Homo sapiens: one gene and its partners. The protein of the gene in region 3 interacts with the protein of the main gene of each other region in a biochemical or structural test. Each region holds a gene or a part of one and is shown on either strand. Other genes may lie near its edges.

Region 1 (7,026 bases), on a different chromosome or scaffold from region 3:
CCTGGCTAATTTTTTGCATTTTTAGTAGAGACAGGATTTCACCATGTTAACCAGGATGGTCTTGATCTCCTGACCTTGTGATCTGCCCACCTCTGCCCCCCAAAGTGCTGGGATTACAGGCGTGGGCCACCGTGCCTGGCCTCATTCATCAAACATTTATTGGGCATACTGAACTAGGGATACAGAGAGGGAGACAGTTTCTGCCTTCATGAAACTCAGTCTTTAATGGAAAAGACTAGTGAAGACAGGACTACAAAACAGTGTGAGAGTAAGAGTAAAGCACATAGTATTATGTGAACAGAAAGCTGGAGCAGTAAATCAACACTGAAGGGTAAAGGGTGATTCTGAAACCTAATTCTCAGGTCATACCTGAGCTGGCTCCTAAAGGAAGACGAGGAAGTAATCAGACAATAAAGAGGGAGTTGGGCAGGGGAAGTGTGTGCAAAGGCATAAAGACTGAGCCAGGCACAGCAGGACACACCTGTAATCCCAGCACTTTGGGAGGCTGATGCAAGAAGATTGCCTGAGGCCAGGAGTTCAAGGCCAGCCTGGGCAACATGGCAAAAGCCCATCGCTACAAAAAAAAAAAAAAAAGCTGGGTGTGGTGGTGCACGCCTGTAGTCCCAACTACTCAGGAGGCTGAGACAAGAGAATCACCTGAGCCCAGGAAGTTGTGGCTGCAGTGAGCCATGATCACGCCACTGCACTCCAGCCCAGGTGACAGAGTGAGAGAATATGTCTCAAAAAAAAGAAAAAGAAAAAAAGACCTAAGTTTCAGATAGCACTTTAAAAAAATTTATATAATCTTTTTTTTTTTTTTAAAGAGATGAGGTCTCACTCTGTCACCCAGGCTCACTGCAGCATCCAAATCCTGGGCTCAAACAATCCTACTGCCTCAGCTTCCCCAGTAGCTAAAAAGACCTACGGGCCCAAATCATCGTGACGCAGCTAACTTTTTTATTTTTATTTTTGGTAGAGATAGAGTCTCACTTTGTTGACCAGGTTGGTCTCGAACTTCTGACTTCAAACGATCCTCCAGTCTCAGCCTCCTAAAGTGAAGAGTACAGGCAAGGTGTGGTAGCTCACGCCTGTAATCCCAGCACTTTGGGAGGCCGAGGTGGGCGGATCACAAGGTCAGAAGATCAAGATCAGCCTGGCCAACATGGTAAAACCCCGTCTCTACTAAAAATAGAAAAATTAGCCGGGTGTGATGGTGTGGGCCTGCAATCCCAGCTACTCAGGGTGCTGAGGCAGGAGAATTGCTTGAACCCAGGAAGCAGGGGTTGCAGTGAGCCAAGATCACATCACTGCACTCCAGCTTAGGTGACAGAGTGAGACTCGGTCTCAAAAAAAAAAGAAAGAAAGAAAATGATGAGGGATGGGGCTGGAGAGATAAGCAGGGACTGGATCATGAAGGGCTTTAAAGGCCATGCTGAGTAACGTGATCAGGTATGTGCTTTAGAAGTTTCAGGAGTAAATTAGAAAGGGGAAAGACTGGAGGCACAGACACTGCTTAGGAGGTATAGTAATACAGGTGAGAAATCGCAAGTTGTCAACTACAAGTGGAGATAGAGAGAAGAGGACAGATTTGAAACATCAAAATGGTAGAATCCACAGGATTTAATGAGTGCTTAAATGTACGCAGAAGAGTAGAATAATCAAAGATGATTCCCAGGTTTCTGGCCTAGGGCTGGGTGGCATTTCTTCAGAAAGAAAATACAAGAGGAACAGATCTGAAGGTGAATATGTATGTTTGTTTGTTTGTTGTTGTTGTTGTCTGAGACAGAGTCTCGCTCTGTCGCCCGGGTTGCAGTGCAGTGGCGCGATCTCGGCTCACTGCAAGCTCTGCCTCCCGGGTTCACACCATTCTCCTGCCTCAGCCTCCCGAGTAGCTGGGACTACAGGCGCCCGCCACTACACCCAGCTAATTTTTTGTATTTTTAGTAGAGACGGGGTTTCACCATGTTGGCCAGAATGGTCTCGATCTCTTGACCTCATGATCCACCCACCTCGGCCTCCCAAAGTGCTGGGATTACAGGCATGAGCCACTGCACCTGGCCTGAACATGTTTGTTTTTATTATTACTGTTGTTTTTAGAAACAGAGTCTCACTCTACCACTCAGACTAGAGTGCAGTGGCATGATCATGGCTCACTGCAGCCTCCATCTCCTGGGCTCAAGAGATCCTCCCACCTCAACCTCCCAAGTAGCTAGAACTACAGGTGTGCATCACCATGCCTGGCTAATTTTTAAAGTTTTTTTGTAGAGACAAGGTCTTGCTATGTTACCCAGGCTGGTCTCGAACTCCTGACCTCAAGCAGTCCTCCCACCTCAGCCTCCCAAAGTACTGAGATGACAGGCATGAGCCATTGTGCCTGGCCCCTCAATCTTAGAAAAGGACCTATGGCAATGTTCTCTTGTCCAGCCTTTGGATGTTGATGATGTAGAAGGATGAGAAGCTAGAATAATCTGGAGACCATAAAGAGAGGGAGACAGACATTAAAAACTCCAGGATGTCAGAGCAGAAAAATGGGAAAAACTCAGTTGGGTCCTTAATTACAGTATCAAGCTGGTAAACTAAACTTTTTCTTTTTTAGAGATGGGGTCCCACTATGTTGCCCACGATGAAATACAATGGCTATTCACAGGTGCCCTCATGGTGCGCTACAGCCTCAAATTCTTGGGCTCACGCAATCCTGAGTAACTGGGACTATAGGCATGCACCACCACGCCTGGCATCTTTCGTTTTCTGAGATGGGTCTTGCTCTGTCACCCAAGCTGGAGTGCAGTGGCGTGATAGTGGCTCACTGCAGCCTCCACCTCCCAGGCTCGAGCAATCCTCCCACTTCAGCCTCTGGAGTAGCTGGGACTACAGGCATGCACCACCACGCCTGGCTAATTTTTGTTTAACTGAAGTTTCGCCATGTTGCCCAGGCTAGTCTCAAACTCCTGGGCTCAAGTGATCCGCCCACCTCGGCTTCCCAAAGTTCTGGGATTACAGGCATGAGCCACTGTACCCGACTGGCTTCTTTTTTTTTAAATCATAGTAAAATATACACAAAATTTACCATTCTAACCATTTTTTTAAGTATACAATTCAGTAGCGTTAAGTACATTCACACTGTAGTGTAACTATCACAACTATTCATCACCTCAACTTTTTAATCTTCCCAAACTGAAACTGTACCTGTTAAACAGAGGATCCCCAATCCCCCTGTCCCTCCAGCCCCTGGCAACCACCATTCTCCTGTCTCTATGAATCTGTTACTCTAGGTACTTCATAGAAGTAAAATTGTACAATATGTGTTCTTCTGTGTCTGCCTTTTTGTTTTTTTTTTGAGACGGAGTTTTTGCTCTTGTTGCCCAGGCTAGAGTGCAATGGCGCAATCTCGGCTCACTGCAACCTCCATCTCCTGGGTTCAACCGATTCTCCTGCCTCAGCCTCTCAAGTAGCTGGGCGATTACAGGCACCTGCCACCACGCCCGGCTAATTTTTTGTATTTAGTAGAGACAGGGTCTCACCATGTTGGTCAGGCTGGTCTCGAACTCCTGACCTCAAGTGATCCACCTGCCTCAGCCTCTCAAAGTGCTGGGATTACAGGCGTGAGCCACTGCACCCGGCCTATGTCTGCCTTTCTACTAGATGTCTTGCTATATGATTTAATAAATCCTCTCAGCGTTTTAGACACGTGTGTTTTCTATTTTTGCAACTAATACATCCTAACTGATATATCTAGGGATAGTGTACACAGTGGGATAGAAGAAAAGGGCAAAGGCAGAAACCTGCCTGACATTTCAACATTTAAAGTAGTGGGAGCCAGGCGCGGTGGCTCATAGCTATAATCCCAGCACTTTGGGAGGCCAAGGTGGGCGGATCACCTGAGGTCAGGGGTTTGAGACCAGCCTGGCCAACATGGTGAGACCCCATCTCTACTAAAAATACAAAATTAGCTGGGCATGGTGGGGCATTCCTGTAATCCCGGCTACTCAGGAGGCAAGACTGGAGGACTGCTTGAAGCCAGGTGGTGGACGAAGGTTGCAGCGAGCTGAGATTGCACCATTGCACTCCAGCCTCGGTGACAAGAACGCAACTCCATCACAAAAATAAATAAATAAATAAATAAATAATAAATAGGCCGGGCGCGGTGGCTCATGCCTATAATCCCAGCACATTGGAAGGCCAAGGCGGGCGGGTCACCTGAGATCGGGAGTTCGAGACCAGCCTAACCAACATGGAGAAACCCTGTCTCTACTAAAAGTACTAAATTAGCCAGGCGTGGTGGCGCACGCCTGTAATCCCAGCTACTCCATAAGCTGAGGCAGGAGAATGGTTTGAACCTGCGAGGTGGAGGCTGCTGTGAGCCAAGATCGTGCCATTGCACTCCAGGCTGGGCAACAAGAGCGAAACTCCGTCTCAAAAAAAAAAACTAATTAAAATAAATAAATAAATAAATAAAATAGCGGGCAGAAAAGCAGGCCAGGAAAGAATAAGAAGCAACCAGAGAGGCAGAAGGGAAATCAAGAGAGCAAGACATCATAGACACCAATGGGGATAGAACATACAAAAGAAAAGAGGGAGGATCCAAAGCTAGAGTTTTGGTGTAAACTAAAACGTACCTAACTAAATAAGTTCCTATTAGCTCAATTAGTGGTGTTTAGGCTCAGGCCAGAATTGTTATGCCAGCTTCCCATCTAGGCAAAGAACAATCCTGGAAAAGACTCCAGGACACGCAAACCTGAAGGACGCCACAGCTGTGAAGTGAAGAAGGATCCCGAACCGCCCTGTCTGATGGAGACCCAAAACGCCTGGGAAGGGTCTGGCTTTTACCACAGACAACCCTTAGCAAGTGAGTCAGAAAAGATGACAAGGTCTGTTTTAGAATCCTAGTCAGATAAAACAGTGACAAGATAAAAACTAGACTCATTTGTTTCTTTGGAACATTCTGTGGTACTGCCCTCTGCCCAAAAATTACAGCTTGCCTTGTTCTTAGAATCTGACCAGCTTACAACCACTACAGCTCCTGATATTCTATGGCTGTACCAATCCAATGCCCACCTCTACAGTCTTGGATATCCAGAACACTATAAATTCCTAATCACAAAATCACTGAAAGTCCATCAATAGCCTAGACTCCTAATAATCTTCTGCCCCTAATCTGGTCCCATTGTGCAAGTCAAGATGGAGCTGACAGTAAACTGCTTAAACAGGAAGACATGATGTGGACAAGGCCAACCATTATACAGAGCAGCCTAAGGACACAGAGGAACAGAGAACTGCCTACTTAGGGAATAAGAGTTACCTGCGATCCCTCGGCATCCCAAACACACTTCTACTCTAGGACTTGCTGCAGTATTCACGTTTGTCTGTTTTGCTTTCCAGAGCTGCAACTGCCCAATGTGCCTCTAGTGCATTACAGGTCAGCTGGAGATACTGATCCTATCAGCCACTGGATGGCTGGGCAGGGCTTGGGGTGGCTACAGCCCTTGGGCCAGCCATCTCAGATTTCAAGTCTCACTATTACCATTTTTTGTGTATACCATGATGAGAAAAAGGCTGGAAAGTACCTCACTAGACTGTGAGCTCTTTGCCAGCACAGACTATGCCTTATTCATATTTCACGTCTCCAGCATCCAGCACCAATGACTGACCTATAGCTAGTGACTGACAGGCGTGTTGAGAACGGTTCTACTGAGGGTGGCAAAACACTTGTGGGGTTGAAGAAGACTGTATTCTATAGGTGGTCTCTGATCCTTTTCCCTGTATCTGACAAACTGAAGAAATGGTTTCCATGTCCTCAGAGCCCACAGGTTCTGCTTGAAGAGAGGAGAGATCATGTGAGGGGCTGTAATTATACCCCACCCCCATTTTCCACCACCAGTAGAGAGTAACTCCACTTTTGTCCATTTTATGTATTAGAATTCAAATAAAATTTTATTTAAGGTTTGACTATTTTTTTTTTAAAAAAAGGACATAAACCATTGCAACAGAGAGCAAATGCTCTCCTACATCTTAAGCTCATGCTGAAGTTTAAGCATTCACGCTTGACACTCCTGTGCATAAGCTAATAAAGGAAGGATTATGCCAGGCTTTCAGCAGTAATGGGAGAACTAAAAGGTACCAAGAGACCTGCCACACCCAGTCATCTCAACTTTCTTCAGGAATATGGTAATAATGGTGGATCTCTAACATTCTGAGCCATTTCCTTTCTGGTCCACATGGTGTGGCAGATCCTTTGCATAAGTCCATGGTAAAGCTCTAACACATTCATGAAATCCCTACTTTAGTCAGTTCTTTACCAGACTATAATATGAAACCTTCAAACATCTGTGGGACCCTTTCCAAACGCTCCTCATGTCTTTTCATTATCAAATAGTTTTATTAGCACTCTATCTATATTTGCAACAGATGTTCAAGTGAAGAAGGTACGGTAGACAGATAATTCTACAGATATCACAATTTCTAGGCCATGATATTCTGAAACAGATACTCAAAAGCAGACATTTTTTATTAAGATTGGACTAAATGAAAAGAGTGGACTAAATGAAGATCCCCATATACTGACTGAGACCTAAAATAAGGGCATCTAGGAATCTAAATCCCTGACCTAGGTCATCAGGGTGCTCTTTTCTGGAAGAGTGAACCATTATCTCAGAGTCACACTGACTTTTCTAATATGAATACTATTCTTGTGCCCCCATATCTTCACCCTACATCCAAATTGATGGTTCAGGGCCCCTGCCTTGCTCCAGCTTCACCTCCCACTCAGGCAGCAGGAGCTGTCTCTGCGATGCTGATGCTGAAGCTGAAAAAAGATTTCGCTGCTCATAAGCCTACGACCAGCACAGAAACTCATGGTAACAATCATCCCTCTACACAAGCACCTCAGGCAGCAAGTTGTTCTTCTGTAAACCTCTTTTCCTCTAAGGCAGCCCTGAGTGTTCATATTATTAGGATTATGATAATGGATTATTAATAGCAGCTAACAGTTATTTGGTACTTACTATATGCTTTGTACAATACCAGGTG
Region 2 (7,026 bases), on a different chromosome or scaffold from region 3:
CCCAGCCTGGGCCTGGCCCTGTCCAGCATGTTGAAGAAAGGGACCCCATTTCTGTCCCCCTTTACAGCAAAACCTCCAAAGTCTGTCTGCACTCCTGTTTCCCATTTCCTCTGCTCTGCTCTCCTGATGGCACTCCACCTAGACTCACACAAACAGCCCCACACTCTGCCAAACTGGCTCAGGGTGAGGTCACTGATGCCCTCCCCGGTACTAATTTCAACAGCCAGTTCTCCATCCTCACCAAACTTGACCCTCAGCAGTTCTGACACCCCTGAGTTTTCCCTCCCTGAAACTTTGGTCTCTGGTCTTCCAGGACACCACCCCCTCCTGGTTCTCCTCTGACCTGGCTGGCTGCTCCTTTTGCTGAGACTCTAACGTTCACACACCCGGAGCCAATCTAGAGGGCTCTTTTCTATCTAACACTCTTGCCCTAGGTGATCTCAGCCATTTCATGGCTTTCAATGCCATCTTGTGAGCTGACAACCCCCAGGCACATACCCCTAGCCCAGACTTCCCTAAATTTCACACATGCATAACCAGTGGCCAACTCGACATCTCCATCCAGCTGCCTAACAGAAACAGCCAAGATGGGGCCCAACATGCTTGTGTCATCTCAGTAAATAGCAACTCCTAACCTTCCAGTTGCTCAGGCCACAAGCCTCAGAGCCACTCTCGTCTCCGTATCTTTTTTGTTTCTGAGATAGAGTCTCACTCTGTCACCCAGGCTGGAGTGCAGTGGTGTGATCTCTACTCACTGCAACCTCTGCCTCCTGGGTTCAAGCAATTCTCCTGCCTCAGCCTCCTGAGTGGCTAGGATTACAGGCGCCCACCACCATGCCTGGCTAATTTTTTTAATTTTTATTTTATTTTATTTTTTTGAGACGGAGTCTTGCTCTGTTGCCCAGGCTGGAGTGCAGTGGCGCGATATCGGCTCACTGCAAGCTCCATCTCCGAGGTTCACACCATTCTCCTGCCTCAGCCTCCCAAGTAGCTGGGACCACAGGCGCCCACCACCATGCCCGGCTAGATTGTTTTTGTACTTTTAGTAGAGACGGGGTTTCACCATGTTAGCCAGGATGGTCTTGATCTCCTGCCCTTGTGATCCGCCCACCTCAGCCTCCCAAAGTCTGGGATTACAGGTGTGAGCAACCGGGCCCAGCCATTTTTTGTATTTTTAGTAGAGATGGGGTTTTACCATGTTTTACCATGTTGGCCAGGCTGGTCTCAAACTCCCATCGCCTCAGGTGATCCACCCGCCTCGGCCTCCCAAAGTGCTGGGATTACAGGCATGGGCCACCAGGCCCGGCCTAAAATAATTTCTTAAATTTTGAGATGAGGTCTCACTCTGTTGCCCAGGCTGGAATGCAGTGTCACGATCACAGCTCAATGCAGCCTCAACCTCCTGGGCTCAAGCTACCTACCTGCCTCAGCCTCCCGAGTAGCTGGGACTATAGGCGTGCATCACCATACGCGCCTAACTTTTGTATTTTTTTGTAGAGATGGGGTTTGGCCATGATGACCAGGCTGGTCTCCAACTCCTGGGCTCAAGCGATCCTCCCACCTCGGCCTACCAAAGTGCTGGGATCACAGGCGTAAGCCACTGCGCCCAGCCCCTGACCACTGTTTTTAAAACCACAAACTCTTCTCCCCACACTTTCCAACAATGCATATTTTCTTTCTTTTTTTGAAACAGAGTTTCCCTCTTGTTGCCCATGCTGGAGTGCAACGGCATGATCTCGGCTCACTGCAACCTCTGCCTCCCAGGTTCAATTGAGTCTCCTGCCTCAGCCTCCCGAGTAGCTGGGATTACAGGCATGCGCCACCATCCCCAGATGGTTTTGTACTTTTTAGTAGAGACAGGGCTTCGCCATGTTGGTCAGGCTGGTCTCGAACTCCTGACCTCAGGTGATCCGCTTGCCTCAGCCTCCCAAAGTGCAGGGATTATGGGCGTGAGCCACCGTGACCAGCCAACAATACATATTTTCTAATTCTGTTGTATTGTCTGGCAAGCCCACCCTCTGTGCCCTGGAAAGGAAGCTCCATGAGTGCAGGGGGCTGGGCACCTCATGCATGCTGCCTCCCAGCATGGGGCTTGGGCCAGGAACAGGCAGATGCTCGTTGTCTGCTGAATGGAGGACGTGCTCCCCCGCCAGCTGCCGAGCTGCACCCACGGCCTGAACCCACACAGCAAGGACAGTGTCTGCTTGGACCCATGGGCCAAAGCCAAGGCCTCTGTGTCTAGGGTGAGCCCCTCCAAGCCTTGGAAAACCAGGGGTAGCCACTCTGGGCCTGGCCACACCCACCTTGACCGTCTGCTCCCGGATGGCAGGGTTGGTGTCCAGGAAGCCATGTACGACGTGGGGGAAGATCTGGGTGTTGACTGTTGGCTCGTCAAGGTACTGGATGAACTGCTCCATCTGTGGCCCAGGTTGGGATGCGTCAACATGGTCAGCCCTTCCCACTCTATCCCCATAGCCATGGAACCGCTCCTGGCTTAGCTTTTCCACCCAGCAGGCACTGGCCAGCCAGGTCAACCTCCTGAGCCACCACCCAGGTGTTTGGCCTCAGGCCCAGGTGGAGGAGTGAGGAAAGGCCAGGAGGGCGCTAGGAAGGCCTGGCTCATAGTCCGGCTCATCTGGCCACCCTCTCAGAGCCTCTTCTATTTTTTTTTTTTTTTTTTTTCTGAGACAGAGTCTTGCTCTGTCACCGAGGCTGGAGTGCAGTGGCGCAATCTCAGCTCACTGAAACCTCTGCCTCCCAGGTTCAAGCAATTCTCCTGCCTCAGCCTCCTGAGCAGCTGGGATTACAGGCACCCACCACCGCACCTGGCTAATTTTTGTATTTTTAGTAGAGACGGGGTTTCGCCAAGTTGGCCAGGCTGGTCTTAAACTCCTGACCTCAGGTGATCTGCCTGCCTCGGCCCTCCCAAAGTGCTGGGATTACAGGCATGAGCCACTGCGCCCAGCCTGAGCCTCTTCTATAAATGAGGGTATCACCCCTTCCCTGCTCCTCCCCACCTGCCCACAGTGCCACGAGGAGGACTGGTGTGTTTGGTGGTCACAGAGGGAATGGCACTGGGAGCCACTGGTACTTCCTAGATCCCATCCATCTTGTCTGATGCTCCCAGCTGCCCTGGGGTTGCAGGAGAAAGACTGTATCCCCACTCTAGAGGGCCAGAGTGACTGAGCCAGGAGAGGAGGGGGCATTAGAGCGCTGCAGCCTGGGCAAGCTGGCCATTCCCAAAACTGCCAAGGAGCCCTGTATGTGGCCAACTTTCTGAGAGCCTGGCCTCATTGGGTCCCTCAGTTGTGTGTATGTTCAGGGGTGGGGTTTCTGGGGTCCCTGTGCAGCCAGGGCAGGTGCCTCCCCAGCCACCAGGTTGGGGTCTGGGTGGACCACCACAGAGTCTGGTACAGAGGCCTCACCTGCTGCAGGAGGCGGATGCGCATGGCCCGGTCAGTGGATGAGAACATCTTGACCACCACAGGGATGATCTTCTGCTGATACTCCTCAGCGCTCAGGAACTTGCCCACCTGAAAGGGCAGGAAGATGGGTTCAGCTGCTCACAGGAATGGGCTGACTTTGCTGGGCTTATCTAAATTCCTGGGGCTGATATCCCAGGGTGGGAATGAAGTGATGGCGGAGGGGGGGGCAGGCATTTCCTCAGTAGCTCCTCTACCCATATTCCATCTCAGCCTTGCCCTTAACCTTTCTGGGCCAAGGCCTCTTTCAGGAGGCTGATGAAAGCTCTGGGCCCCTCCCTACAAACAGGTACCTTTATGCCATATGCAGAAATTCTGCCTGCAATTTCTGGGGGTTCTCAGCTATACAGGACTTGCTTGTTGTCTTCTCCCCTCCTGACAAGTCTTTCAGATGAAAGGGTTCTCCCCAAGGTGAGGAGGGCAGGGAATGCCAGGTGCCCATAAAAAGGCGGGCTGGGGTCTGAGGAAAGGGTGGAAGATCCAGCCCCCAGAAGTCAGGTGAGCTGAGTGCTAAGCAGTCAGGAGGGAGGAGGGCAAAGTGGGGTGGTGAGTAGGTAATCCCCTGGGCCCTGGGAACCAAGGTGCACAGGTCAGACCCGGAGAAATGGAGGAAGGGCTGAGGGTTGTGAAGCCAGAGGTTTGTGGAAAAAAGGATTTTAGCGGCAGAGTCTCTCCTCCCCAGGGGACAGCTGGTCAGGTACCTGTTTATAGACACTGGCAGGAAGCTCCTGCTCATATGGGCTTGGGTCTGCCCTAAACAGCCTGCCCTACCCCAGGGCCTTCTCTTTGGCAGTTCCTGTGCACCCAGCCAGCCTTCTGGACCCCACAGTTCCACTCACCTTGAAGAGGGGCGTGAGGACAACGGCCCCAGCATTGCCGAACTCGAAGGCGGTCAGCAGCTGGGGCAGCACCTTGTGCCGACAGAAATCCTCAGGGAATGCGTCCAGGCTCTTGCTCAGCTCCTGGAAGAATTTTTGCTTCTCGGCTGGCTCTTTGATCTGGGGGAGTGAGGACGGGACCCGGGGAAGAGATCAGCCTGGTTGCAGCCCAAACCCAGCCATGGGTGAGGACAAGGAGAAGTGATGCTTATGGGCCTTATGGGCTCTGGAGCCTGGCTGCCTGGGTTCAAAGCCCAACTGTCCCACTTACCTGCCATGTAAAATGGGATAACAGCTCTACCATCTACGGGATAGTTCTGGGATTCAACCAGAAAATGCACATAAAAGCTGCAGAACAGGCTGGCACACGGCAGATGCTCGGTGGGTTAGGGACTGTTGCTGCCATTGCGGCTACCTGACCTGTTGCTGGGAGAGCAGCCACTAGGGACAGCAGAGGCATCACTAAGGGCATCAGGCCCTTTATCAGTGTTGCCTCTACTGCTCGCCACCCAGGATGTGAGCACAGAGGAGGAAACTGAAGATCAAAGAGGTGAAGGGGCTTACTTGGTTTCCCTGCCCTGGCTGGATTGGGCAGGAAGTTCCTGGTAGGCCGTGGGAAGGCAAGGATTAGGTACACTTTACTCCCAGACCTCATCCTCCCACTGAGCCAAAATGGACCAGCCTGTAAGCTCAACGGTCTCCTTTAGTCCTCCTAACCCCCCTTTGAGGCCATAATACCCCCAATTCATATTTCTGGAGCACAGATTATGTGCTAAAACCTTTACACAGATTATCTCAGTCCTCTTCACAACTTTACCAGGTAGGTGCTAATGTAATCCACATTTTACCAACAAGGAAGCTGAGGCACAGAGAGGGCAAGGAGCTTGTCCAAAGTCACACAGCTAAGAAGCGGTCAGAGGAGGGTCTGACTCACTGGTTTGGCACCTCTCCTGTGCTGTACCCTTCAAAAGATGCTGTCACTCCCCCCATTCACAAAGGAGGAGACAGAGGGTCAAGGTCAGCAGCCAAGAGTGGCCAGGCAGGGGTCATGACCCAGTGTTGTGTTCCAAAGTCCCTGTGCTCTCTGTTGTACCACCACCCCCATAGCCGCGGCTTGGCCGGGGAGAGGCGACCTCTGGCTTGGGACAAAGAGGACCTAGATGGCCCTTGAGCAGCTCAGACCAGCGTGGGAGGCCGGCTTGGTGCTCTGATCACATGGTTCAGCGGGGCCAAGGCCCAGAGAGGCTAAATCACATCCAAGGTCATACATCAAGAGAGTAGCAGCTGGGTTCTCCCCACCACTCCACCTAACAATGGGAAGAGGGGCCCCTGGGCACTGCCCTCCCATGTTCTCCTGGAGGCTCCCGAAACCCTATTTCCTATGGGGTACACTTTAAGGAGAAGGGTAGCTTGGCAGAGCCAGCCGTACGAGGAGAACTCCACGTAACAAAGTTCCTGCTGCCCCGACACTGCCCAGGAGGCAACGGGGTCTCAGCGTTTCCAGCAGCTTCTCCTTCCAGGTTTCCACCCTCCAAAGGCCCTCCCCGCCCCACAGCATCTGAGTCAAGATTCCATGACCTCTGCTGGGTCAGGGTCTGTGGAGTGTCTGCCACTCTCCTCCCCTGCTCCTGATTCTGATTCTCAGCCCCCGCTGTCTTCCCCACACACGGCTGGGGCCGGGCATTGCATAGAGCAGAGCCTTCCTCCCTCCTCCCTACAGCAACCCTGCAGGCCAGTGCACCCAGATGCTCCTCACTATACACATGTGGAAACCAAGGTTCAGAGGCAAAGCAGAGGGCTCCCTCCTCAGTATCTCTCCACGTGCTGTCGCCTCTGCCTGGAACTCTTACTCCAGGTACCATCCCTCTGGCTCCCACAGTCATGTCCTTCAGGCCCCAGCTCCAATGTCACACTTCAGAGAGCCCATCCCTGAATACCCACTCCAGTACTTTCCTTCCTGCACTGGATTTTTCTTTTCTTTTTTTTTAAGACTGAGTTTTGCTCTTGTTGCCCAGGCTGGAGTGCAATGGTGCGATCTCGGCTCACTGCAACCTCCTGCCTCCCAGGTTCAAGCTATTCTCCCGCCTCAGCCTCTGGAGTAGCTGGGATTACAGGTATGCGCCACCATGCCTGGCTAGTTTTTTGTATTTTTAGTAGAGACGGGGTTTCTCCATGTTGGTCAGGCTGGTCTCAAACTCCTGACCTCAAATAATCCGCCAGCCCCGGCCTCCCAAAGTGCTGGGTTTACAGGCGGGAGCCACCGCACTGGCTGGTTTTCTTATTTATGGTGTTCTTTTGTTTGTTTTGAGACGGAGATTTGCTCTTGTTGCCCAGGCTAGAATGCAATGGCACAATCTTGGCTCACTGCAACCTCCACCTCCCAGGTTCAAGCGATTTTCCTGCCCCAGCCTTCCTGAGTAGCCGGGATTACAGGCATGTGCCACCACTCCCGGCTAATTTTTGTACTTTTAGTAGAGATGGGGTTTCTCCATGTCGTCAGCTGGTATCGAACTCCCGACCTCAGGTGATCCACCCGCCTCAGCCTCCCAAAGTGCTGGGATTACAGGCGTGAGCCACTGCACCTGGCTCTTATTTATGGTTTTTATGTTTTCTGTCTCTTCCCCAGCAAGAGTTCCCAAGGTTGGGGATCTGGTCTGTTTACTTTT
Region 3 (7,026 bases):
CATAATTAACTTACACAAATTTCTTTGTACTCCTAAACACATGCCACAGTATTCTGGCTTCCAGTTTGTGGATTCCTAGATTATATATATAATGGATTTCAGAGGTCCAATTTATGTAAGCCTCTTTACTTTAGATCGTAGTCTTTGTTCCCATTAGAGCAAAATAATGAACTGCAGATGGGTTTCTTTTAAGAGGACTTTTGAAAGAACATATACATAAATCTTCTTGATTAAATTTTATACTTAGAGGACTGAGACTGGTAAGGTGTTGGATAGGGTAGCAGTTTCTTTTTCTTTCATAAACTCATTTTTATGCTTTTTTTGCCCCCTAGGCAAGAAAAATCTCGTTGGGAAGTCCTCCAACAAGAACAACGGCTAATGGAAGAGAAAAATAAACGTAAAAAAGCTCTTTTGGCTAAAGCTATTGCAGAAAGGTGAGGCACCTGAACCAGGAGAGGCTGTTTGTAACCTGTAACCAGTTGTGTCATGTGTTATATTTGTTTTCCCATGTCTCTTTTAATAAACTGATATTTTTTCTTCAACCATTACTTTTAAGACTAACTAAACAAATTATGCTTTATAAGTGATACTGAAATACTAGTTATAATTTATTAAAGAGAACTTTTTAAGCATAGAGCATATTAAATTTGTAAATATAGTTGCAGTTTTAAAGACCTTCATTAGTGCTCCCAGTTTTAACCATCTACACATTCATAAGGGAAGCAGTAAATAGCTATCAGTATATGTAAATTAGCAACAAATGCAAGTTTTAATTTTTATGTGGGGAGGCCTTAATCATTTGATGTGTAGAGGAATAAGGTTTTCTACATAAGTGACATACTCCCATGAATCTTAATTGGATTTCCTATGGGCATTTTTCTTAAATAATTTGCCCCGCCTCCACAAGTAGAAGATACATGATATAGTTTAACTTTTTATTGATGACTCAGGGTCATTATTATGAGCACTGTGTGAGATTCAATTTTTCTTTCACCTTCCAGTGTCTATCAGCAGCCCCTTCACATTTACTGCATTGTACCAGCCGCACACAACAACATTCCCATTGGAATCATTCTTCCCATCCCCCACCACTCTTGCTGAGTTTGTAGTTTCTGTCTAATCTCCTGTGGCCTTAGGAAACTAAACTTAGTCAATATATCCATGGTTGTGAATAGTGAAAACTAAATGCAAGGAAGTACATTTTCTTTTTAGACTTCCAGAAAAGTCTGTCAAACTGTTACTGCTTGAAGCTAGAGTATGTGTAGGGGCAGGAGAAGAGGGAAGAAGGTGATGGGTATAAGAGTAGTTCAGAATTTTGTCTGCCAGAGGAGTGAGTGTAGTTGAGAAATGGTGATTTTTCTTTTTCTACTACTGGTACACCTTGATCTTTCTTGAAGCATAGGAAATAATGCAACTCACTGAGTTACTATGTTTCAAAGGAAAAAACCAGCAGATAAAAGAGTAGTGCCCTCTTTTTTTTTTTTTTTGGTAAGTGATTATTTAAAAATAATTAAAGCATTTTAGTAGTCTTCAATTTCTAAGAGATGGGAAGGCTGTTTTCTGTGGTTTTACAAAAAGATGTACAGGCTCAGCAGTTCTTCTCATAAGTGCTTTTGATTTTAGACAGCACCAGTATAAACAGAAGTGTAAGGAAATACAACGTTTGAACTATTAATAAATGGACAATGAAGTACTTGACGTAAAAGAATCATACTGTTAAGTGAAGTTTTGTAGGCAGAAAGGAAGGGTAAATGCCTAAGAGTAGAAATCAAGAGAATGTGCTATGTAACATGGTGGATTTATGTGGGGATTTTTCTTCTTCCTTCACAATGTGTGTGAAAATTTGAAATGAGTGAAATCATGATTAAAGGGTTGCTTTTTTATTTGTTTGTTCCCTTTCTTAAGTATATATTGTACTTGGGAGAGGGGATTGAGAAATTATGAGGTTGGATGTGCTTTTAAATAAGGAAAATGAGTGTTTTGATGTTCAGCTCCATAAAGAATTTTCGTAACTAGTAGTTTTCCTAGAGAACAAGAATCAAAGCAATAAAAGTTTGGGGAAATGGGTCCCAAGAAAGTTAAAACTAAGTGGATGTTCTCAGATATATAAAGAGGTGTGGTTTAGTATAGACATCTATCTGTTCTTAATGTCAGGTAAGTATCAGACAAATGAAAATGGGCTTAGCAAGAGGAAGAATTAAAGACTAGAAATTTGGAAAGCTCTGTTGAATGTTTCAATGTAAAGGGAACACAGATATATTCTTTTAGTGTTTGTTCTCTTTACAGAATGAATATCAATCTAAAATGAACTATTTGCTGAGTTTTTTTAGACTTATTTGTTACTTTATGAAACATGCAAATATAAAATTTCAAAAACTCAAATGTTAACCAGCTTTTACTTTATTTCAATTTTTCTGATTTTTTTCTAACTTTTAAAATATAAATTATAAATGTATATGCAGTATCTTGCTTTTTCACTTACATTGTATATGGACACATGGTTTTAAAATGTTCTTATTTTCCCACTCACATACCTGATTTTCTAGATCCAAAAGAACTCAGGCAGAGACCATGAAACTAAAGCGGATCCAGAAGGAGTTGCAGGCTTTAGATGACATGGTGTCAGCTGACATTGGAATTCTCAGGAACCGGATTGATCAGGCCAGCTTAGACTATTCATACGCTCGGTGAGTTGGGGAAATTGAATCTGAACAAGGAGTATGATTTAATTAATGTTTATTGCCAGCTGTTCCAGGGGCTTTTATGTATATCATCATTGAAGCCTCAAAACAACCCCATTCAGTGCTGTATTTATTCTTCTTTTGTGCTAATTCAAGTGTCTCCTCTTCAGTGAAGTCTTCCTTAACTCTGCCCTACTAGTTAACCTTGTTCGTGTGCCATTAGAGCAGTTCTTGCATTATTTATTTACGTTTTAGTCTTTGCTGCGAAACCCTCAGCTATTTAATGTTTGGAAGTGTTTTTGCTCATCTTTCAGCATCTAGCAAAGTAAATATCTGAGTGGTTTCGCCAAAACTGTTACTCTGACACCAAGTCTGTGTTCTTTCCATTAAAATTTTTGATATCTGATATAGTCCTATAGGATTGAAGTCTAGTCCTCACTTTAGCTTTCATCAGAGTAAGAGGATCTAGTTTAGTTTTTAAAAGCTTATGAATATTTTAAGCATATCCTCTGTCTTGGAAATTTGAAATATTTTCTCTTTTTTTTTCCTTTCAATTATACTCTGTATGAAATGGTTTAATATATGTTTCCTTGGTTTCAACCATTGGCATTTTTTAAAAGAGAAAAAATACCATGGAGTATTTTTAAAATGAACTAACACATGTAATGAATTACATGGACTTTGCAGACAGATAAAAGGGCAAAAAAATATGTCCAATTTCAGGGTTTTCAGCCCTTTCAACATTGCTTTAATCATCCTGGTTTGTCTTTTTTCACAAGGGAATGCTGTGTTAATGACTCAGTTTTCTATCTTACTCTGTTACACTAGAAATGAATCAGAATGCCTCATTAGGCCAGGGTAAACCACAACATCAGAATGTTTATATAACAATTTATTAAAGCGGAAATGCTTGATTGTGGTTTTTAATAAACTGTTGAGTGTTTAAGAAAGAGTCTTGTGGTTGTCCTTGTGACTTTTGTAATTGTTGTTGGACCATATGCTATTAGACTTAGAGTTGTCTTTATTAATTAACTACTTAAAAGAATGCCATCAGTAGCTGATAACCAGAGGTTCCAGGTTTCCATTAATAAGGTCATTAAGGGAGATAACAGAGATTTTATTTAAGATTAAACTAAGCCTTGATTTGTAGCACATTTTATTCTCTGTAACATAAGTTTGCCAGAGGAACATTTTTATGCCTTTGTAGCCTTTTATATGAATAATTCATATTATAAGGTAGAAGTACTAGGTACCTCAGTTGAAATTTGAGGCCGGGCACGGTGGCTCACGCCTGTAATCTCAGCATTTTGGGAGGCCAAGGCAGGTGGATCACGAGGTCAGGAGTTCAAGACCATCCTGGCTAACACGGTGAAACTTCATCTGTACTAAAAATACAAAAAATTAGCTGGGCGTGGTGGTGGGCGCCTATAGTCCCAGCTACTCAGGAGGCTGAAGCAGGAGAATGGCGTGAACCTGGGAGGCGGATCTTGCAGTGAGCCAAGATTGCGCCACTGCACTCCAGCCTGGGCAACAGAGCGAGACTCCGTCTCAAAAAAAAAAAAGAAAGAAAAGTAATTTGATTTTAATTTTGTCCTAGTGGAAACTGGAGAAAGACGCTTTTTCATATTCAGTATTATATAAGAAATGTCATAGTTTTAGCCTTCTAAGAACCACAACAAAGAAGGTGGGATTACTAAAGGAAAAAACATCCTATAGTCTATAAGTATCCTAAATGAAATTTTAGTAAATTTTTAAATCTTTAGTAAGTTACAGATGACAGTTTCTCATGGTACTAATATTGATGTAGTTGAATGTAAGTAGATGTTGTGTGCCACTATTTTTGTTTTTATTTTTAGGTTTTTGAGACGGAGTATCACTCTTATTGCCCAGGCTGGAGTGCAGTGGTGCGATTTTGGCTCACTGCAACCTCCGCCTCCCAGATTCAAGCGATCCTCCTGCCTCAGCCTCCTGAGTAGCCCAACTATAGGTGCCCACCACCACACCTGGCTAATTTTTTGTATTTTTAATAGAGATGGGGTTTCACCATGTTGGCCAGGCTGGTCTCCAACTCTTGACCTCAGGTGATCCGCCTGCCTCAGCCTCCCAAAGTTCTGGGATTACAGGTGTGAGCCACCACGCCTGGCCATGTGCTGCTATTTTCAAAAGCCGAAGCTCTTGCGTTGAGTCAAAGGGAAACAAAGACTTTGGTGACTAGAACCGTAGTGTGTCTTGTTCATGCGTAAGATTAAGGTATTATTTTCTAAACTTGCATTTGTGGTTATTGAGAAATTACAGATCGGTAAAATAATATTATGGTCCAGATTTGAAGTGAAAGATAATCCCTAGGACAGTCAGTTTTTATGGGAGATTTCCTTGTTTTTTCTTTTTTTAATAAAAATGATATCTTAGTTCTATAGTATTTGGTACAGTGCTATGTCCACAAAAGGTTCTTGGATAGTGAATAGGCCAGAACTTGCTTTAAAATTGGCTTCTGTAGAGCAGTGTTTGGATAGACACCTCTGAGAAGACTAGCACTTTGAGCCAATTTGAGAGAGTTGCTGCTGCTGCTGCTGCTACTGCTGCTACTGCTGCTACTGCTGCTACTGCTGCTACTGCTACTACTGCTACTGTTCACCACTGGGATTACAATGTTGCCATATGCTGTGCAGACCAGTTTATAAAATCCAGAGTGGCTGCATGTAGAACATTTTTTTAAATCACTATTGACCATCTAGGTTTCATAGACACCCTCATACATGCAAACATACACCCACAGACGAATATTTTTAAATCACTTTATGAGTAATTTTTAAAAGTAAGATTAAAAGGGATTGTGTAAAACAACTTTAAAATTTTAATAAGAATGTAAGCATGGTAACCATCTTTGTATCAAGTAATGTTTGACTCACAAACATAAAAAGCTGAGAGAGTATAGTTACATCCTTGTAGCAACACAAGATAGTCTAGATACTTGTAAAATATTGGGTGTATGTTCTCCCTGCTGAAATGATTAACTCTATGATAAAATCATTTTTCCTTTCTATGCTTAGAAATATATTTTTTACTGACTGATTCTTAAGTTTGAGAAAATTCACCTAGGATATGTTTTGCTGAAGACTCATCTGAGATTTCACATATGATCGATTTTATCATCTAGACTCTAGAATGTGTCTCTGCATTTGTATTAGTTTCCTAAGACTACCATAAGAAGTAATCCAAACTGGGTGACTTAAAACAACAGAAATTACTTCTCTTTCATTTCTGGAGGCCACATATCCAAAATCAAGGTGTCAGATTTGTGATTTCTTCAGAGACTCTAGGTATCCATTTCTTGCCTCTTCCAGCTTCTGGTGGCTGTGGGCATCCCTTGGCTTGTGGCCACGCCATGCCATTCTGTGCCTCCATAGTTATGTTGCTTTTTCTTCTCTCTCTAAACTTCCTCTGCCTTTCTCTTAAAAAGATGCATGTGATTACACTTAGGGTCCAGCTGGATAATCTGGAATAAACTCCTCAAAACCTTTATCTTAATCACATCTTTTTCCATATAAGATAATTTTCACTCATTTGTCATAGAAAGTAATATTCACAGGTCCCAGGAATTAGAAAGTGAATATCTTTGGGAGGCCATTTTTTAGCCTACCACACCATTCATCTTTTGATTTCTTTAACAGTGGCAAGATGTCTTCCTCTGTCAGTTGTCTCCACTTTGCAAATACTGGATAGGCAGAAAATGAAAACTAAAAACAGGTTACAAAAATGGTGTTTTCAGTCTTCTTTTATACTTTCTGGAGGTGACATGATACTTTGTACAGCACAGTAAAGAAGCTCAACAATGATAAGTTATTGCATCATCCTTTCAGATCATTTTCTTATTTTAATTTCTTTTTATTACAAAAGGGAATAATTGATAAGTAATGATGAAATAATTCCTAGGATGATGAAATGGCAAAATGTTTCAAGATACAGGAAATATAAAAATACTGCAATAATCCTATAATATATCTTAGATTTATGAAAGGGTTCTTTGGACCTCTCTGGTAATTGCAAAATATAATTTATTTTATTCTGTTTTTTTAAATAAGTAAATTTTCTCATTATTTGAAAGACTTAAGAAAAGATAAAAATTATGAAATGCTAATTTATACAAATAGTGAGAACTGCTCAGAAAAGGAACTGAAAAACTAAAAGTGGACCCGTGGAACCCAGTGGTATACTGAGGGTTAATGGTTGAGTTTTTAAACATTTCAGGGGATACCAAAACAAAGAGACAATTTCTAGAATCCTTTAAAAATAACATTCATTAATTCATTCCATCCCCCTTTAAAATAACAAAACAGTTCTATAA
Region 4 (7,026 bases), about 58 Mb from region 3:
TGATGGCCCCATCCCAGAAACAGGTACCCCCAGACTGGCAGCCCCCTGCTGCATGGCATCTTGAGGAGAGGTGGGGGCTGTGCCCACTCAGGCAGGGACCATTCCCTGGTTGGCACAAAGCCCTATGTATGCTAGCAGTGGCCCTGCCCCATAGCCAGCTATACAAAGTGGGGTTCAGCAGCAGGCCGATGGAGGGAAGGACGGAGGCTGAGGTCTTCCATGGTGCCTGCTGACCCCTGCCCTGTATGGCCCAGGTCTCATTGGCTGGGCCCGACAGGACTGCAAACGAGATCAAGGTCACTGTGGGCAACCATGCTGGAAGAGCCTCTCACACAGACACAGAGAAGTGCCTGCACACTCAGGAGGGAACATGGGGAGGGTGTGGACTGAGGTGGCGGCCCTAGGCAGTCACCTGTACTTCCTAGAGTAAAGCTGGCTGATGCACCCACCATCTCCTGGGGGCAGCATGCCTGTGTGGAAGCACTGGAGAGCCGGTGAAATAGTTAAGAGATTTTATTCTAATAGCTATAATTACAGTGCTTGTTTGTCGAAATGAAAACTGAAAACAAGTATACAAAACAGTTGATTACTAATCGTGTATTGAAAGCAGTAAGAGGTTCCACGACACCAAATAGACCAGTTCTGAGGTTTCCCCAAGATAAATTTAACAGCTCCAGCTTCAGTGTTTATCAAAATACAAAAGAAAAAAGTAGAGGTTGTCTTTTTCGATGGCAAATCGGACCCTTGCAGGCTGAGGGAGAGAAAGCTACATCACACACAGAGGTGGGGTGCTCCCGAGGGGCTGTGGGTCTAGGTGGACCGCCTGCCCGGCTTGCACGCGCTCCTGCTGGTGAGGCCCCAGACATCCTGCCAAAGTGTCTGAGCGAGCACGAGTGTTGGGGACGACGGACCCACTCTGGCCACACGGCGACCGAGGGACAGATGGGGCCCTGCGTCCCATAGGCTGCCTGAAGGTGGGTAGGGCGGCCTGCGGCATAGTGGGGTGGCTGTGGGCTCCCAGCCTGGCCCCTGGGAACCGTGGGAGCACAGGGACAAGCACATGGCTATGGAATGCAGGGTGACCCAAGGACAAGCGAGTTGCGGGGATCTCTACTGTGACCATGCAGAATTGATCGCAGTCTGCTGCGCCACCACCACCTCATGTTCCCGAGGGGAACAGCTGGGCTGGCGACTGGCATCCAGGCCGTAACTGCAAATCTATGCTAGGCGGGGTCTCCCTTCTGTGTGTTCAAGTGTTCTCGACTTGGATTCTTAACTATTTTAAAAAATGCACTGAGTTTGGGTTAAAAACCAACCACCAAAATGGATTTCAACACAGCTCTAAAGCCAAGGGCGTGGCCGGCTCTCCCAACACAGCGACTCCTGGAGGCCAGGTGCCCATGGGCCTACATCCCCTCTCAGCACTGAACAGTGAGTTGATTTTTCTTTTTACAATAAAAAAAGCTGAGTAATATTGCATAGGAGTACCAGAAACTGCCTCATTGGAAACAAAAACTATTTACATTAAATAAAAAGCCTGGCCGCAGGCTGCGTCTGCCACATTTACAGCACGGTGCGATGCACACGGTGACCAAACCACGGAGGCAGCTTCTGGCACTCACACCACGAGCCGCACGTTTGCCACATGAGAGTAAAGCAGAGGGCAAGAGGAGTGAGAGGGAGGGGGGTCGCGTTCACTTCTGGTTCCGGAGCTGATTGGACAGCCAGTCCAGTCCTTCATAGAGCCCGTCGCCGCTGGTGGCGCAGGTGGCCTGAATGTACCAGTTCCTGTGGCGTAGTGAGTGCAGCCCCAGCTTGTCTGTGATCTCGGCCGCATTCATGGCGTTGGGGAGGTCCTGGGGGAAGGAAGGGTTGGTGGGAAGGGCTGTCCACAGGACAGAGAAAGGGGCCCCACCAGCCTCCAGTAACCCCTACCACCAGGCGGAACCCACACTGGCTCCTCACATTCCCCAGGCTGGCCCGGGCGCCTACCTGCTTGTTGGCGAACACCAGGAGGACAGCATCCCGGAGCTCGTCCTCGGCCAGCATCCTCATGAGCTCCTCACGGGCCTCGTTCACACGCTCTCTGTCATTGCTGTCCACCACGAAGATCAGGCCTGCCGGGCAGCCAGTGTCAAATGGTCATGGGAACACAGCCCCCCTGCCGCATCTATGGGCATCGATGCCCCATCTATGGGCTGGCCCCCCCTCTCTAGAAGCAGGAGTGCCCATGGGACCAGGCCCCAGCCACTTACCTTGTGTGTTCTGGAAGTAGTGGCGCCACAGGGGCCGGATCTTGTCCTGGCCACCCACGTCCCACACAGTGAAGCTGATGTTCTTGTACTCCACGGTTTCCACGTTGAAGCCTGGGTGCGGGATGCAGGGTGAGGCCTTGTACCTTGGCCCAGCCCAGCCCAGCCCACTCCCTGCTGGCCCCCACCTCACCTATGGTGGGAATGGTGGTCACGATCTCACCCAGCTTAAGCTTGTAGAGGATCGTGGTCTTCCCTGCAGCATCCAGGCCCACCATGAGGATGCGCATTTCTTTTTTGCCAAAAAGGCCCTTGAAGAGGTTGGCGAAGATGTTCCCCATGCTTGTGGACAGGTGGAAGGACACTGGCCAGGGACACCTGGAGAGACAAGGTGCTCCATGTCTGGTTCTGTGCTGCCCAGCAGTGGTTGCTCAGAACCCACCCACCCAGGGATGCACCACTGCCTCACCCCACCTCCTGGAAGCCTGCAGGGAAACAGGGAAAGAGCCCTGCCTCCCATGCCCCCCAAATCCACCTCAGGATGGGGGCTGAGGGAAAATGGCTGAGTCAGGAATTGAGAAACTGTTGCCCTCATCTTGGGAAGCTGTCCCCACAGCTGCATGGCCAGAAAGGCTGCCTCATCCCAGCCTATGCAGGAGGGGAGGCTGGCTGCCTGAGGACTGGCTTCCAGGTGCGTGCAAGGCTCCTCTACACCCCAACACAGAACCTTCCAGGGCCAGAGAGCACCACTCACTGTGCCTGCCCACACTCACAAGGACCAGAGCACACAGGGCCACGCCAGACTCAGCAGGACACCTTCAGGGACACACTCCCATGAGGACACAGCCTCGATGGGGCACGCCCGCCATGTCTGCCCCACACCGCAAGGGTAGGGGTTCCCTCAGCAGAACACAAATATCGGGGACAGCAATTAAGTCAGCTGGCACCCACCATCAGAGCCCTGCGGAGACTCCAGCAGGAAGGGCCTCCACTGCCCAGACGCCTCTGTGAGGACACTGAAGTTGTTAGGCTTTGGCCTCACTGGCCAGTGGGCAATTTCACGAATCAGGTGATTTTATCCCGAACAGGGACTTTAGAAAACACTGGTCACTTTCTGAAACAATGACTGCTTCTTCACTGCACCCGCAAGCGGGGCTTACCCCGAGTGAGGAAGGCTTCTGCCTTCAAGAGGACATGCCAGGAGCCTGTGAGCACACCCACCCCTCATCAGACCTCCTCCACCAGGGGTTCCACACACAGGTGGCTTTTGGCTGAATCACAGCCATGACTGTCCGCTGGTGACTCTCTCATCCAGTCACCCCAGCACGCTACGGCAAGGAAATGCCTCTTCTCCATTTCTCAACATCAGCAAGAGCCCACACATGCCTGTGTGTTTCAGTGGGTGTGAACTGGCCGCCCGTGTCTGATTTAACACTGCCATCATCCCAGATGAGCCACAGAACCCCTTCAAGCTGGATCAGTGTCCTTTGGACACTTTGCTCTTGGTTTTGAACATGTCACCTATTCTGAAATTTAAATGAGTTCTGAAATTTATAAGGACCTTCACTGTAGTGTTCCCTTTTTGGGGACGGCCAGGTTTTCTAAGCCCAGAGGAAGACCACCACCCATGGAGCACAGAAGAGACTGAATACCTGCCCTCTCAGTCCACTCCTGCAACCACTACCAATGAAGACACCAAAATGACACACACGCCTTGAAGGGCAGAGAGAAAAGGGAGGAAGACCTTGGATGTGATGATTGACCAGGCAGAGAAAACTGGACCGCCTGGGACCCAAGGGATGAAGCTGGGACTGCCTAGGGCAGCAATGTCCAATCTTGGCTACCCTGGGCCACAATGGAAGAAGAATTGTCTTGGACCACACACAAAATATACTAACACAACAGCTGGTGAACCAAACCAAAACAAAAACCCCCAAAATCTCAATGTTTTATTAGAAATTTGTGTTGGGTCGGGTTCAAAGCCATCCTGGGCCACATGCGGCCTAAGGGTTGGACAAGCTTGGTCTAGGGGAGCAGCTGCAGCAGGGCTTAGGCCTGCGCTGAGCCATGACAACACACTTGAGCCATGAAATTCCAGAATAATTCCTGAGAGTTCTATATGCCCCAGCAGATCCACACACAAGCAACTGGAGCTCCGCCCACCCCCACCCCCCACCAAGAGACAGGCCTGTCTGCCTTTGAAAGGCCACCAACATAAGAGACCCAAATATAAAAGGAATCTGCAAGGAGGCAACCAAGACAGGAGACTGAAGACAGAATACTATTTTAACAAAGGACAAGGAGAGAAACCTGATAGATACACAAATAGCTGAAAAGGAAAATTCAAAATGAAGGTGCTCAGAAGGCAGAACAAAAACAAACAGAATGAAAAAGGAAGATGAGGAGTAACTTAAGATATCAACCAACAGAAACCCTAAAAAGAAAGAACGTACGAAATTACGGGGTGAAATTTTTCCCTGTTCCAGAGTGGGGACCCAGGAATCTGGGCTTCGGCCTCAAAGGGCTGAAGCGCAAAGCCAAGGACCTAGATGAGACCCAATAAAGGTGCAAGGTGGACTCCAGAATGCACAGGGGCAAATGACACCTCTGATGCCCCAGAGAATGGAAGACTCTGAAACACTGCTTTCGAAACCCTTTAATTCTATACCCAGCCAAAGTATCCAACAAGTGTTAGGGGAGAATGAAAATAACTCCCAAACTGCAGGGCCTCAGATCTCTCACATGCTCCCTCCCTAAGAAGCTCCCCCAGGGAACCAGGGAGAGGATGCGAGCCCACAGCAACGTGGAGAGAGAGCAGCAGCCTAGCCAACCCCACATGGAGAGAGAGCAGCAGCCTAGCCAACCCCCTCAGACTGGAGCAGGAAGTGGACACCTGCAAGAATGGGGCACGCCACCTACGTATTCTTATTATGGGGTTGGGCAACTCTAGGCAATGCGGAAAAACTAATAATGACAGGTTCGCATGAAAAACCCAAGCATGAAATGGAACGAAAAGAGGGCCTTTTATGAGTTACTCCAGGAAAACATATGGTGGAGGATACTCAGGGAGTCCTGATGTTGTTATTACTAGGGGGTTGGAAAGCTGAGGCGAGGGTGTGTGGTGTCAAAGGCTTGTTAACTGTACAAGTTAACAAGTCTAGGAGGAATAAACCTAGGACACCAAGTCAGCAGGGACTCAGGAATAAGGGTCGCCTGCCAGTTGGGCAGAGGCAGCACCAGACTGCCACGACCACTGAAGCACAGCACTTGGGAGAATTGACAGTAACACCCAGCCACTCAGGGGAAGGGGTGTCACACCGTCACCAACCCCCTCGACCCCAGCACTGTCCGTGATCCACACATGCCTGCTGCCTCCTCATGCCCGGGGCAGTGCCGCCAACCATGCCCAGGAGATCATGCAGCCTGCAGGCAGTGGGGTTTGTGATGCCAGTAATCCCAGGCCCTCCCCATTGGTGGCTTTTTTTTTTTTTTTTTTTTTTGAGACAGAGTCTCACTCTGTCATCCAGGCTGGAGTGCAGTGGCTTGATCTCAGCTCACTGCAACCTCTCAGGTGCGATCTCGGCTCACTGCAACCTCTGCCTCCCAGGTTCGAGATTCTCTTGCCTCAGCTTCCCGAGTAGCTGGGACTACAGGCGCGTGCCACCACGCTGAGCTAATTTTTATTTTTATTTTTAGTAGAGACGGGGTTTCACCATGTTGGTCAGGGCTGGCCTCGAACCCCTGACCTCAGATGATCAGCCCACCTCGGCCTCCCAAAGTGCTGGGATTACAGGAGTGAGCCACCACGCCCGGATTTTTTTTTTTTTTTTTAACAGACCAAAGCGTTAAGAGTCCCCAAAGGAGGGAAGCCACCCTGCAATGGAATGGCAGAACCAGGATGGGTGAACCTGAAGTCTCAGGTGTCAAGACATCGGCACACAGACAGCTTGGTCTCTCCTACCGACAAGCACATCTGTGGCCCTGCTGCACATATGGGCAGAGGGTGGCTGGCACGTCCTGCCTCGGCATGTTCCAGCATCCCCACAGGACCCTATACCTGGCAGCCCCTACATCATTTACTGCTTCTGTGACAGATGGAGACCCAATAGAGTTTCCTAAGAGGGAGAAAGAGTCCACAGCAACCCCCACCCTCAATTCCAGGGCCTCTTGGTACGGGTCCTAACTTGTGTCATGCCCAGGCCAGGTGCTGTCACCCTTTCTTCCACCAGAGTCCCTGCACACAAGCCAAAACCCGCTTTTCAGGTTCATCGGAATTATCCTGTGGTAGGAGCAAACCTGACTTTCTCAGAGCCTTCCTGCTTGTACACAAGGGGACCCCTCACACTTTGAGAAGGGGCTGCCCAGCAGGAGGATGCCAGGAGCCACCAGTGGCTACTTCTCTTTCCTGACCACGCTGTGGGCTCCAACTCTGAGGAAAAAAAGTCTTTTAGGAAGAATGTTTCTTTCTTCAGTGAGGACCACAGACCAATGGTAAAGGTGGCCTTCAGGCATTACACCAAAGAACGGGACAGTCAACTCTGGCAGCTACATTCCCCGACACCTCACTGTGCCTGAACAGGGGCAGGGAGAAAATGTAGCTCTGTGAGTTCACATCCGTTTTGTGTCCATGAATGGATCCAACCAAACTGGTCCAGATGCACATGGGGTCCAGATGCCTCTGTGGCCTGTACCCAGACCACCAGCCAGTACTGTCCTCGGTCCCTTGCAGATCTCAGGGATACTTTGGCATGAGTCAGGGAAGGGAACAGGCGCA

Evidence for each region.
Region 1: the proteins of GORAB (region 3) and ARF3 form a complex in vitro, tested with the Homo sapiens proteins (one study listed by BioGRID).
Region 2: the proteins of GORAB (region 3) and SCYL1 form a complex in vitro, tested with the Homo sapiens proteins (one study listed by BioGRID).
Region 4: the proteins of GORAB (region 3) and ARF1 form a complex in vitro, tested with the Homo sapiens proteins (one study listed by BioGRID).

What each region holds. Positions count from the first base shown.
Region 1 is NC_000012.12:48,947,465-48,954,490, forward strand, and holds part of ARF3 (ADP-ribosylation factor 3), read right to left. Parts: intron 1-7,026.
Region 2 is NC_000011.10:65,528,083-65,535,108, reverse strand, and holds part of SCYL1 (N-terminal kinase-like protein), read right to left. Parts: intron 4,481-7,026; coding exon 4,322-4,480; intron 3,534-4,321; coding exon 3,426-3,533; intron 2,418-3,425; coding exon 2,304-2,417; intron 1-2,303. UniProt on the Homo sapiens protein: Regulates COPI-mediated retrograde protein traffic at the interface between the Golgi apparatus and the endoplasmic reticulum. Involved in the maintenance of the Golgi apparatus morphology.
Region 3 is NC_000001.11:170,542,159-170,549,184, forward strand, and holds part of GORAB (RAB6-interacting golgin), read left to right. Parts: intron 1-332; coding exon 333-434; intron 435-2,546; coding exon 2,547-2,687; coding exon of another isoform or gene 2,688-2,691; exon of another isoform or gene 2,692-3,633; intron 3,634-7,026.
Region 4 is NC_000001.11:228,092,682-228,099,707, reverse strand, and holds the end of ARF1 (ADP-ribosylation factor 1), read right to left. Parts: intron 2,631-7,026; 5' UTR 2,594-2,630; coding exon 2,446-2,593; exon of another isoform or gene 2,367-2,445; coding exon 2,256-2,366; intron 2,118-2,255; coding exon 1,993-2,117; intron 1,857-1,992; coding exon 1,695-1,856; 3' UTR 496-1,694; downstream 1-495. UniProt on the Homo sapiens protein: Small GTPase involved in protein trafficking between different compartments. Modulates vesicle budding and uncoating within the Golgi complex. In its GTP-bound form, triggers the recruitment of coatomer proteins to the Golgi membrane.